Linked DNA regions of Homo sapiens: region 1 is linked to region 2. Evidence: fine-mapped expression QTL. A gene starts in region 2. The other region holds a variant in brackets. All regions are shown on one strand. Distances are between the middles of the regions.

Region 1 (5,376 bases), 170 kb before region 2:
GGCGGAGCCCCAAACTCAAACCCAGCCCTTGAGACATGTTGGGGAGGCAAGGGTTGAAAAACTAACTGTTGGGTACTATGTTCAGTATGTGGGTGATGGCATCAATCATACCACAAACCTTAGCATCACACAACATACCTAGGTAACAGATCTGTACATGTAGCCCCTGAATCTAAAATAAAAGTTGAAAAAAAACAATAACAAAAACCAACCCTAAAACAGTTCAACCATCACCACAAGGAAAAAAATAAACACACTTGGGGTCACTGTGTGCCAGAACTCCAGCCCTGCCGTCAGCCCTGAACCCCAGGTACACAGCAGCTGCTGGGCCTCTGGAAGCAGGGAGCCCCCATACTCTGACAAACATGCCCTTAACAAACCCACAGGGGCCAATCCCAAGTTGTCTGCAGAAACCACAACATAATGTCAAAGTCACTCCTACTGTTAGATTTTATTTCAGAAGCAGTGTGAAGAGGCTACATAGCTCGTGACATGTTGCTTAGAACTCTCCTTTTCTCAGCCTCTGCACCCTGTTATGTCTTTAGCTCAAAAACAGAAAAGCTCTCCCTGCTGTAGCCTGAGCACCACCCTCCTTCCATCCCCTCCATCAAGAAAGCTCCCCAAACCTGGCTTGACAATTACTCAGCTCTCTTGGAGCGGGTAGTGGACGTGGATGAATGCAGTAGGGAAAGCCAGAATCCTTTTGAGAAGGAAAGGGGAAATGAGGCCAGCATGGTGGCTCATGCCTGTAATCATAGCCCTTTGGGAGGCTGAGGCGGGAGGATCGCTTGAGGCCCAAAGTTTGAGGTTGAAGTGAGCTATGACTGTGCCACTGTACTCCAGCCTGGGTGACAGAGTGAGACCCTATCTCAAACAAACAAAAAACCCAACCACACCAAAATAACAATTAGCAAAACTTCAGTAAGGTCTATAGATTATGGTATTGTTGGTCATTGCTATTGTATCAATGTGAACTTTCCTGGTTCTGATAATTGTACATAATTGGTTAAGTAATAGAACATCCCTGAAGTATTTAGGGATAAAGGGGTATTAGCTCTGTAATTTGCTTCTAATAGGTCAGAAAAAAATGTGTGCATACACGATACATGGACATTACAAACATTACAAGATGAGTCTCTGTGATTCCTGTACACACACACACAGAATGACAAAGCAATTGTGCAATGTTAGCAGTTTATGAATCTGGGTGAAGGGTAAATGGCAGTCCTTATACTATTGATGAAACTTTAATGGAAGCCTGGAATCATTTCAAAATAAAACATTTGGCTGTTGAAATAAACTCAGATGGGCTGACAAAAGTAGAAGGTAGGATGAAACATATGAGAAGCATAGTAACAATTATGGAAGAAACATCTAGGGGACCTGAGATTTGTTCTAGAAAGTTCTAGAAAGAGAAAAGGAAAAGAAAGAAAAAAGGGAAGAAACAAAAGAAATAATGGGAGAAAATTTCCCAGGTCTAAGAAAAGATCCCATTAGTACTAAGAAACAGAATGAATATATTTAGATATGGCCAGTTTCAACTTCCAACATCAATAATAAAAAGAAAATTCTATTTCTTGAAAATAAGTTAACCTGTATAACATGTCACTTATTAGATCCACATCAGACTTCTCACTGGTGACAAGGGATGCTAGAAGATCATGGAGTATCATCTTCAGAGTTAGATTCTATCTCCAGCTGAACTCCTAGCCAAGTATGAGGACAGGATCAAGTAATAAAAATTGCTTTTGAAATGTCTTGATTAAAATCCCTCCCACAGCAGTGTAGGTCTTTCAGTGGAGACTTCCAATTTTTTATGTTTTTCAACACTGACCTGCATTTCAGTCATACAGTAGAGCAACAGATGTCATCATCTGGATTCTAAACTGGCTTTTAAAAATGGCTCTTCCATTAAAGAAAAACAAGGGGGCCCAATATTTTCTTCACATTGCTTGAATATATATATATATATGTGTGTGTGTGTGTGTGTATATATATATATATATTTTTTTTTCTTTTTTTTTTTTTGAGAGACGGAGTCTTGCTCTGTTGCCCAGCCTGGAATGCAGTGGTGCGATCTCAGCTCACTGCAACCTCCGCCTCCTGGGTTCAAGTGATTCTCCTGCCTCAGCTTCCCAAGGAGCTGGGACTACAGGCGAGTACCACCACACCCAGCTAATTTTTGTACCTTAGAGACAGGGTTTCACTATATGTTGGCCAGGCTGCTCCTGACCTCAGGTGGTCTGCCCGCCTCAGCCTCCCAGAGTGCTGGGATTAGAGGCATTAGCCACTGCACCCAGCCAAAAATATTTTCAATATAAACATTCCATATTGATTTTCACTTTGAGCTTCCTGCATAATGTTTAGAATGTGAGCCAGGCATGGTGGCATGGTCCCAGCTACTCAGGAGGCTGAGGTGGGAGGATGGCTTGAGATCAGGAGTTTGAGGCTACAGTGCGTTATGATTATGCCTGTGAACAGCCACTGCACACTAGCCTGGGTGACAGTGCAAGACTGTCTCTAAAAAAGACAAAATTAGGATATAAGCACTGAGGTGGATGTAGCGACATTGAGAGATATGGAATTGACTTAGATTTCATTTGAACAAAGACCAAGAAGCTGCTAAGATTCAGAGGAGCAATAGGTTGATGGAATATGTGAATTAACAATTCCTATGTCAAAAGGAGATTATGGGCTGGGCGCAGTGGCTCACGCCTATAATCCCAGCACTCTGGAAGGCCAAGGTGGGCAGATCACCTGAGGTTGGGAGTTCGAGACCAGCCTGGCC[C/A]ACATGGTAAACCCCGTCTCTACTAAAAATACAAAATTAGCTGAGTGTGGTGGTGCACGCCTGTAATCCCAACTTCTCAGGTGGCTGAGGCAGGAGAATTGCTTTAACCCGGGAGGTGGAGGTTGCAGTGAGCTGGGATCACCCCATTGCGCTCCAGCCTGGGTGACAGAGCGAGACTCCACCTAAAAAAAAAAAGAAAAAAAGATTATGAATGAACCTTTCAGCCCTAGTCCTTGCTCCCTTCCAAAAATATTTTTTGTATGTGCCACTGCACTTGAAATAAGCCGCCATCTGGATCCCAGCATCGAGGTGACTCTCCCACTTCTGCTTATACCAGCACTCACACATTTAAGTCTCCATGCCTGCAGCAGTGCCGCTGATAGTAGGTGGCCTCTGCTCACTGCTGGCCACTTTCAGCGGTTTATGTCCACCCAGTCAAGACTGTATGCTCCAAGCGCTGAGCCAAGGCTGTGTAGGAGCGTGCACCTAACTTGATATAAGGATGACATGTCAGAAATGGTCAATATGCTACTACTATCAGCAAATGTTTCTCCAAGTGAAAACTTAGTAACTGACTTACTGTCTGCTTGAAACTATCTACAAGGATTAAACCTATTTTGGAAGAACAAGGATTAGACAATTCTGTTTCTTAATGTCTGCTCTGTTAATAATATTAAAGAAACCTTGGAATGGAGCAGTGAGACTAACAGATTGCTGGAAAGGAGAAATGAATACATTTATTCAGTGTTTCCACAGACAGAAGGAAAGCTGGCAAGCATTTGCAGTTCCCAGAAATCACTGAGTCTTCTTTACCAGGCTGCATCAGAGCGCCTGCGATTATTCTGAGAAACTTACAATGACACTGAACAGAGACTCCCGTGAGGAATCTGTAAGAGGCTATCTTCAGACACGCATTTCTTTTGAGGAACAATAATCAGTGCCACATCGCGTCTGTGATTTAACATGTTCAGTTCCCTAGGAAAAGGCAGCAGAAGGCACACTGCTGGGATGAATTCACATACACCTGAAAACAGCCCTGACTGGCGGTGGGACTCAGTGCAGGTGGGAAAATGACAAGAAAGTATTGCACAGGAGGAGGAAAGCTATCCAAGGCTTCACTTCCCATTGCAGCAGGAGCATCTTAAGGCCAGGTAAATGCATCCCATCGCTCTAAGCTCATGAACTGCTAGCAGGAATGAAAATGAAAAGCTTTGTGAGTAGCAATATGGCAATGTTTTCCAAGAACCTTAGTTTTTCCATCTTAAAGGATCTTTTAAAAGTTCATATCCACTAGTCTCATTTTCAGAAATGTAATATAAGAAAATAAAGATTTATGTATAAGGATGCTTAATATCTATTTTTCAAAACAATGAAAATAATCCAAATATTCAATAGGGGATTGAGCACAGAAATTACTCCATCTTCTTAGTCAAATATTGTGCAGTCATTAAAAAAAAAGTTCTCAATGGCTATTTAATGGCATACTAGGATCCTAATATTACAAAAAATGCAACATAAAAAAGAATAAGGCCGGGTGCAGTGGCTCACTCCTGTAATCCCAGCACTTTGGGAGGCTGAGGTAGGCAGATCACTTGAGGTCAGGAGTTCGAGACCAGCCTGGGCCAACATGGTGAAACCGCATCTCTACTAAAATACAAAAATTAGCCGGGCGTGGTGGTGCACACCTGTAATCCCGGCTACTTGGGAGGCTGAGGCAGGAGAATCACTTGAACCCAGGGGGCAGAGGTTGCACTGAGCCGAGATCGCGCTACTGCACTCCACCCTGAGTGACAGAGCAAGACTCTCTCAAAAAAAAAGATTGAAAAGAAACACTCAAATGTATATAGTGATAATGTCTGGCAATAGAATTTTGAGTGATTTTTATTTGCTTTATTATTTGCTGTTGTTTCCCAAATTTTCTGCCATGAGTACATTTCCATAATCAGAAAACAATGTTTTGGCCAGGCATGGTGGCTCATGCCTGTAAGCTCAGCACTTTGGGAGGCCAAGGCAAGTGGGCCACCTGAGGTCAGGAGTTCGAGACCAGCCTGGCCAACATGGTGAAACCCTGTCTCTATTAAAAATACAAAAAATTAGCCAGGCATGGTGGCAAACACCTGTAGTTCCAGCTATTCGGGAGGCTGAGGCAGGAGAATTGCTTGAACCCAGGAGGCAAAGGTTGCAGTGAGCTGAGATCGTGCCATTGCACTCCAGCCTGGGCAACAAGAGCAAAACTCCGTCTCAAAAAAAAAAAAAAAAAAAGGAAAAAGAAAACAATGTTTTGTCTTGTTTTTTAAAGGAAAAACCCCTGCACCGTGATAGGTTTAGAAGTTCTCTATCTCCACAGGGCAAGCGTGTACCTACCTGTGCTCCATACTGGGTTTCTGGTAGTTGAAGTGTACATCTCAGGAACATATGTATATACACTAACTTAATCATTACAAAAATCTCAACAGATGACTTCTGATGCACAATACCGTCTGAGTGTAGCATCACAAAACACATCACTAAAGTATACTAAAATAAGGTTATTTACTTCAAAATGATACATTGGACATAATCTGTATATAGAACAAAGCAAGTAATGG
Region 2 (5,376 bases):
GTACAGATATGTAGAAAGCAACTGAATAAAAAAGAAAAAACAAAACAAACAAACAAAAAAACGTGATTCAGAAGACACATAAACAAAGAATTGAGAATTATTCCAACAGAAAGGTCTGAACAATCATTCTAAGGGACTAGAGACATAGAGAAAAGTGATCTGAAAAGTGAAACTTGGAGAACGCATATTAAAGAGGAAAGAAGAAACAGAAGGCAGAAAAGTGGCGGAGAGGAACAAAGTCAGTATAATGTCACAAAAGGCCCCTCTTCATCTAGTTAATAGTTAACTCTTGCTCATCCTTCACAATCTGCCTGGGTTCCAACAAAGCAATTTTAAGGTATCTTTCCCAGATTCTCCCACCACCACAAGCACCAGATCAGGTCTCCATTTGAAGTTCTTATAATATTCTGCACCTTAATTAAAATCACAATTATATTTAACTAGAGACTTTATTTTTCAATAAGTATTTCCCCACTAGACTTTAAGCTCCATGAGGGAAGGATCTGTTGTATCTTACTGCCTTGGACCCTGTGTTAGAATACAGCGAGTATAGATGAATGAAACCCAAGGAGAGGCATCTGAAAATGTGAAGTCGATGTTAAATCTTACAGAAAACTCAAGGAGAGGACTTAGAAAAAGGTAGTTAAATGTGTTGATTAGGTTATAGTTCCTTGTGAAGGTGAAATCCAGATAACAAGGGGTTAAGAAATGAGTGGCTAGCCACCAACCAGGCAAAGGCAGGAAAAGCAGACTACACTTGGCAATCTCTAGAGATGGATTGTGAATGACTAAATTTTAATTTCAATGTTGCGCTAGTTCGCAATTAACAACCATGTGTTACTTTTATTACGAACAAGCTTTTTAAAATGTTAATAAGATTTGAAAAGGAAAAGCAGCAACAAGACAGCTTGAAGGAGTAGCAGACTTAAGAAAAGGTTTTTGTAAACTGAAAAAATCTTAAGAACATTTGTACTTTAAAGAACCCAAATACGACAGAGAAAATAACTCACGCTCCACTAAGCAGGAAAATTAGAAGGAAAGGAAAAAAACCCCAAGGTGTTAACTAATAAGAAAGACAAAAAAAAAAAAAAAAATTCTCCCTCTTTGACGGAAGGTTAAGAAGCCAGTAACAGAAGGAATTTAATGAAGGAGCTCCTGCTAAGTGCCTCAACCTCTTCTGTAAAGGGTGGGGAGAAGTGAAGAAAGTAGAAAAAGTTTAAAGTGGGCTCCACGGAAAATGGAGGAAAAATTAAACAAGAACTGAGTCTGGTTCTACTAAAAACGCATTCTACATTTCAATCGGCCTTTCATACACTCACCCCATTCCTAGATCAGAGAATTGCCCATATTTTAGCTTCAAATTTAAAAATCTAAATAATTCTGGTTCACATTCTTTATTTCAACAACTGAAAACAATGAGACGCATTAAGTTACACTCTAATTCAAAGTTTAACTCCTCTCACAAGTAAATACAATAAAGTAGTTGTTTTCAACTCCAGCAACAAAATAGCGATAATTTCAAGTAAGAGTAACTGAAAAATGTTCCTAAACGTAAAAGTGTTTGCAAACAGTTTTGGTTTTTTTTCTTCCTAATTCGTTTGCCAGAATACGATGTTCCTGGGTTCAAATCCCAGCTCCCTTAGACAAGTTAGTTAACCTCTTTGCGACTCGGTTTCTTCCCCTAAAACAATGAGGAATACAATAAACCAGAATCGTTGTAAGGATTAAATGACGTAACACAGGTGCCAAGTTCATACTATGTACTCTGAACAGTTTGTTAACCGCTTAAAAGAGAAAACCTGCAGGAGTTTGACCAAATTAAAACATCTGAGAGCATGAAAGAGTACCACGCTCAAACGCCAGACCCTAACACACAGCATATTATTTTTCTTCCCTGACGCAAGCTCATTTTTTTTTCCTTGCCAAATCTTTCCACTAGGAGTCTGGAAAGAGAAAAAAGGGTCCAGGCAATCCAGCAGAAAGTTTTCCAAAACTGAAGTACGGAATCACCAGGCCACGGAGCGGAGGCCGCGCAGGACAACAGGTGAAGCAGCTCCGGGAGCTCGGGGGCCAGGGCCCCTTCCCGCGGGGACTCGGGGGCGGGCCGGCTGCTCCTCTCACTCGACCCCCGCCCGAAACTCATTTTGTTCTCCCCTGTTCCTCCCCACAGCGTCCGGAGCCAAATCACAAATATCAGCCTCGCCGCTCCGGGGCGGGGAGGTGAGCGCCTTTCCCATTTAAGGATTCCAGAAGCGTCCCCGGAGCGACTTTCGCCCACTCCGCATCCCCAAACTCGGCCTGCAACCCGCGAGTGGGAGACAAAAGAGGGGCCGGCGGGGGACGCGGCGCGGGGTGCCGTGGGTCTCTGGCTGGGCGGTCCCGGCCCAGCGCGCGCCGAGGCCTGCGGAGCTGCCGGGGCCGGGCCGGGCAGCCCCTGGCTCCGGCCACCGCGCGCCCAGCTGCCTCTGCAGCCTCGCCCGAGCCCCTCTGGCCTCCCCGCTGCGGCCAGCCCCTCCGGTCCGCACGCGCACTCCCAACTCACCCGGACCCCAGGGAACGCATCCTCCAGCCCTCGGCGCGGAGCGGGTGGGCGCGGCGAGCCGCCGGGGCGAAGTGGGGCCCGAATCGGCCTTCGCCCTTGGCGTGCAGCGGCCCCGACCCGGTCGCCCCTCGATCGGGCCGTGCGATCTTCGCCGCGCGCGGACGGACGCGCCGAGCCTAAGCCTTCCTGCCCGCCCTTGGCCCTCCTCCCTCCTCGCTCCTGCCTCCTCCCTTCTCCTTCGCCAAGCCCGGCAGGCGGATTCCAATCTCTGCAGCGGCCGCCGCCACCGCCGCCGACTCTTGCCAGGAGGGGAGGGGGCGGCGCGGGTGCGGGGGCCTGGGGGAGGGGCGGGCGTCCGCGGGCCTTGCACGGCGCGCGCGCACTGGGAAGGCCCCCGCCCGCGCCGCGCGCACCCGACCACGGGCGCCTGCCCCGCCCCGCCCCGGACACGAAAAGAGCCGAGCGCACGGCGGAAGCGCCCGAAGAGTTCGCGGAGCCCGGCGCCCAGTTGCCGGGGAGGAGGGCCAGCCGCCGGCAAGGGGGCGCCGAGCTGCTGGTGCGGGCGGGAGTCGGGGCTGCTCCTCCGCGCGGGCCCGCCGGCCCCTCCCCACAAGCCAGCCCCACAGCTGCCGCCCGGGTAGCTTCCCGCAGACGCCGTAGGTAGCACGCGATGGAACGCGGCGGAGGGGAGCGTGGACACGGCTGCCGGGCGCTGCGGCCATCGGCGCCCTGGACGCCCGCTCCGGCCTTCGGGGCCGGATATCCCCACTCTCGCGGGCTCTTTCGCGTGGACCCCTCCTCCGGCCGACACTCACACTGCGGTGAACGCCAGTCAGCTGGCGTGAAATAAGGTCGCTGGGAAGGCACCAAGTCACCAAGGTGGGGGATGGCCAGGTCGTGGTAGTTGCGACAAAGAAAAATATAAGTCACATTGCATTTGTTTCTCGCCCACCCACCGCTCCCGGCGTCTCTTCCCGGGCTCCTTGCCAGCGTGCCGAGGCGCAGGCAGGGTGATGGAGGCTCCCCGGCCGGGAGGATCTGCCGGGGAGAGCGGCTTCCCTCATCGATTCGGGAGCGCCAGGCCCGGCGCGCCCGGGCTCCTGTGACCTGCGAGCCCGCGAATTCCAGCGGCATAAGATAAGGAGCGGCGAGGGCCCAACAGGACTGAGGTCAGCCAGCTATAAATACGCCTCCAGCTCCACCGCGGGCTCACGCTGGTGACCTCGTGTACCCTCCGGAGGCTCATTCCGTCCATTTGGAAAATGCAAATAATTGTCACCACCTCTTTTCTTCCATTTCCCCTCATTCATGGTGGAAAATGCTTTTAAAAGTATTCGATGACCCGTATGTGAGGAAAGAGGAGATAGGCCCCTTTTTCACCAAATGTGACTTTAACCTCCTTAGTAATCCAAGAAATGTATCAAGTTTAAGTCACTTAACAAAAGATGTTCTTTTAAAGGTGCATTTTAAAAAATCACTTTTAAAACTGGGTAAACTGGGTAAAAAGAAAGGGGGAAGGAAAACAATGTGCCAGGCATTTGTATTGACACACATTCTTGCCTGAAGAGGTGTTTAGATTCCAGGGTATTCCCTTATATTCTGGTATAAATGTTTGAATTCCCGTGTATTTTGTTTCAATTTTTTGGTTTATCTTTTATTCTGTCTCCCTTTTCTTCTTTTACCCGCCTTTGCCCTTAATGCTGCAGATAGCCTCTGTCATTCTGAATTATTTTTCAATTCTGTTTTCTTCCCTAATCTTTTTTTCTGGGCTCTTCAGCTGTCTCAGGTTTGACAGTCATGGGTTGTAGTATCTTGCTATGCAGGAAGAAGAGGATACGTGAGATTACTTGCATCAACTAAAATTGGTCACTTTTCTTTCTCAAGTTTCCTTCATAATACCCAGTTTTAGTTTTTTTGTTTTTTGGGGTTTTTTTGTTCTTTTTTTTTTGAGACGGAGTCTCGCTCTGTCGCCCAGGCTGAAGTGCAGTGGCGCCATCTCGGCTCACTGCAAGCTCCGCCTCCTGGGTTCACGCCATTCTCCTGCCTCAGCCTCCTGAGCAGCTGGGACTACAGGCGCCCGCCACCACGCCCGGCTAACTTTTTGTATTTTTAGTACAGACGGGGTGTCACCGTGTTAATAGGTGTTCTCGATCTCCTGACCTCGTGATCCTCCCGCCTCGGCCTCCCAAAGTGCTGGGATTACAAGCGTGAGCCACTGCGCCCAGCCCCAGCTTTAGTTCTAAAGGAAAAGATGGGCCTTTTGCTTAAGGAGATTCACATTGATTGGTCAAAGCTCTCATTGACGTATGCTGAGCAATGTGTCGGCAGAGAAAACCATGGCAAGCGTGTTATTATGCTCTTTATAGTCTAGTTGGATTTTTAGACATATGAATTGGTCTATAAAATAGACAACAATCTCAGGTGGGAACCTTAGTACATCAAGTTTCTGAAATGTACAAATGAGTATTCCCTGGCTTGTGTTATCTGCCACTGTAGAAATGAGAGCAAAATTGAAGCATCAAATTTTAAGTCGTGATATGTTTGCTTCTCTGCAAAAGACTCTCCTTTTCAAATCTTCAGGAATTTTTCGCTCTCCTTTGATAAGGCCCAGCTAGTACCCAGGCTTCAATCCTCAGCGCCCTGGCTACCAGCAGCTAGTGGGGCATGCTGTTCTCCCTGGCTACTGGCATGTTTATGCATGCCAGCCCGTTTCTCCGGTCTGTCTGCCCAGGGAGACATCTGGACACGTGTGTTCTGGCCCCCAAACTCAAAAGCAACATCTCGGGATCCACAGTTAACATTCCGTAATGTGTTGGTATTCCTTTAAGTGGGTT

Which allele goes with the higher level. Alleles are on the strand shown, and positions count from the first base shown. SD is a standard deviation of normalised expression in the study named.
For the expression in prostate of the gene that starts at base 2,843 in region 2, allele A in region 1 goes with a lower level than allele C (small effect, 0.36 SD a copy in GTEx).

What was found. PIP is the estimated chance that this variant, and not a neighbour inherited with it, causes the effect. A credible set is the group of variants that fine-mapping cannot tell apart.
Region 1: its variant is the best candidate, but not a certain one, in a credible set for the expression of BMPR1A in prostate (GTEx, PIP 0.86).

The regions. Positions count from the first base shown.
Region 1 is chr10:86,927,895-86,933,270 of GRCh38, reverse strand. BMPR1A (bone morphogenetic protein receptor type 1A) reads right to left here. Exons shown (of 13, transcript NM_004329.3): 13 at 5,302-5,376. Among named protein-coding and RNA genes, the nearest start is that of MMRN2, 27 kb to the left of the region's middle. The variant C/A (reference allele first, on the strand shown) is at 2,789.
Region 2 is chr10:86,754,086-86,759,461 of GRCh38, reverse strand. BMPR1A (bone morphogenetic protein receptor type 1A) reads right to left here and starts at 2,843. Exons shown (of 13, transcript NM_004329.3): 1 at 2,543-2,843. RefSeq lists a silencer at 2,361-3,330.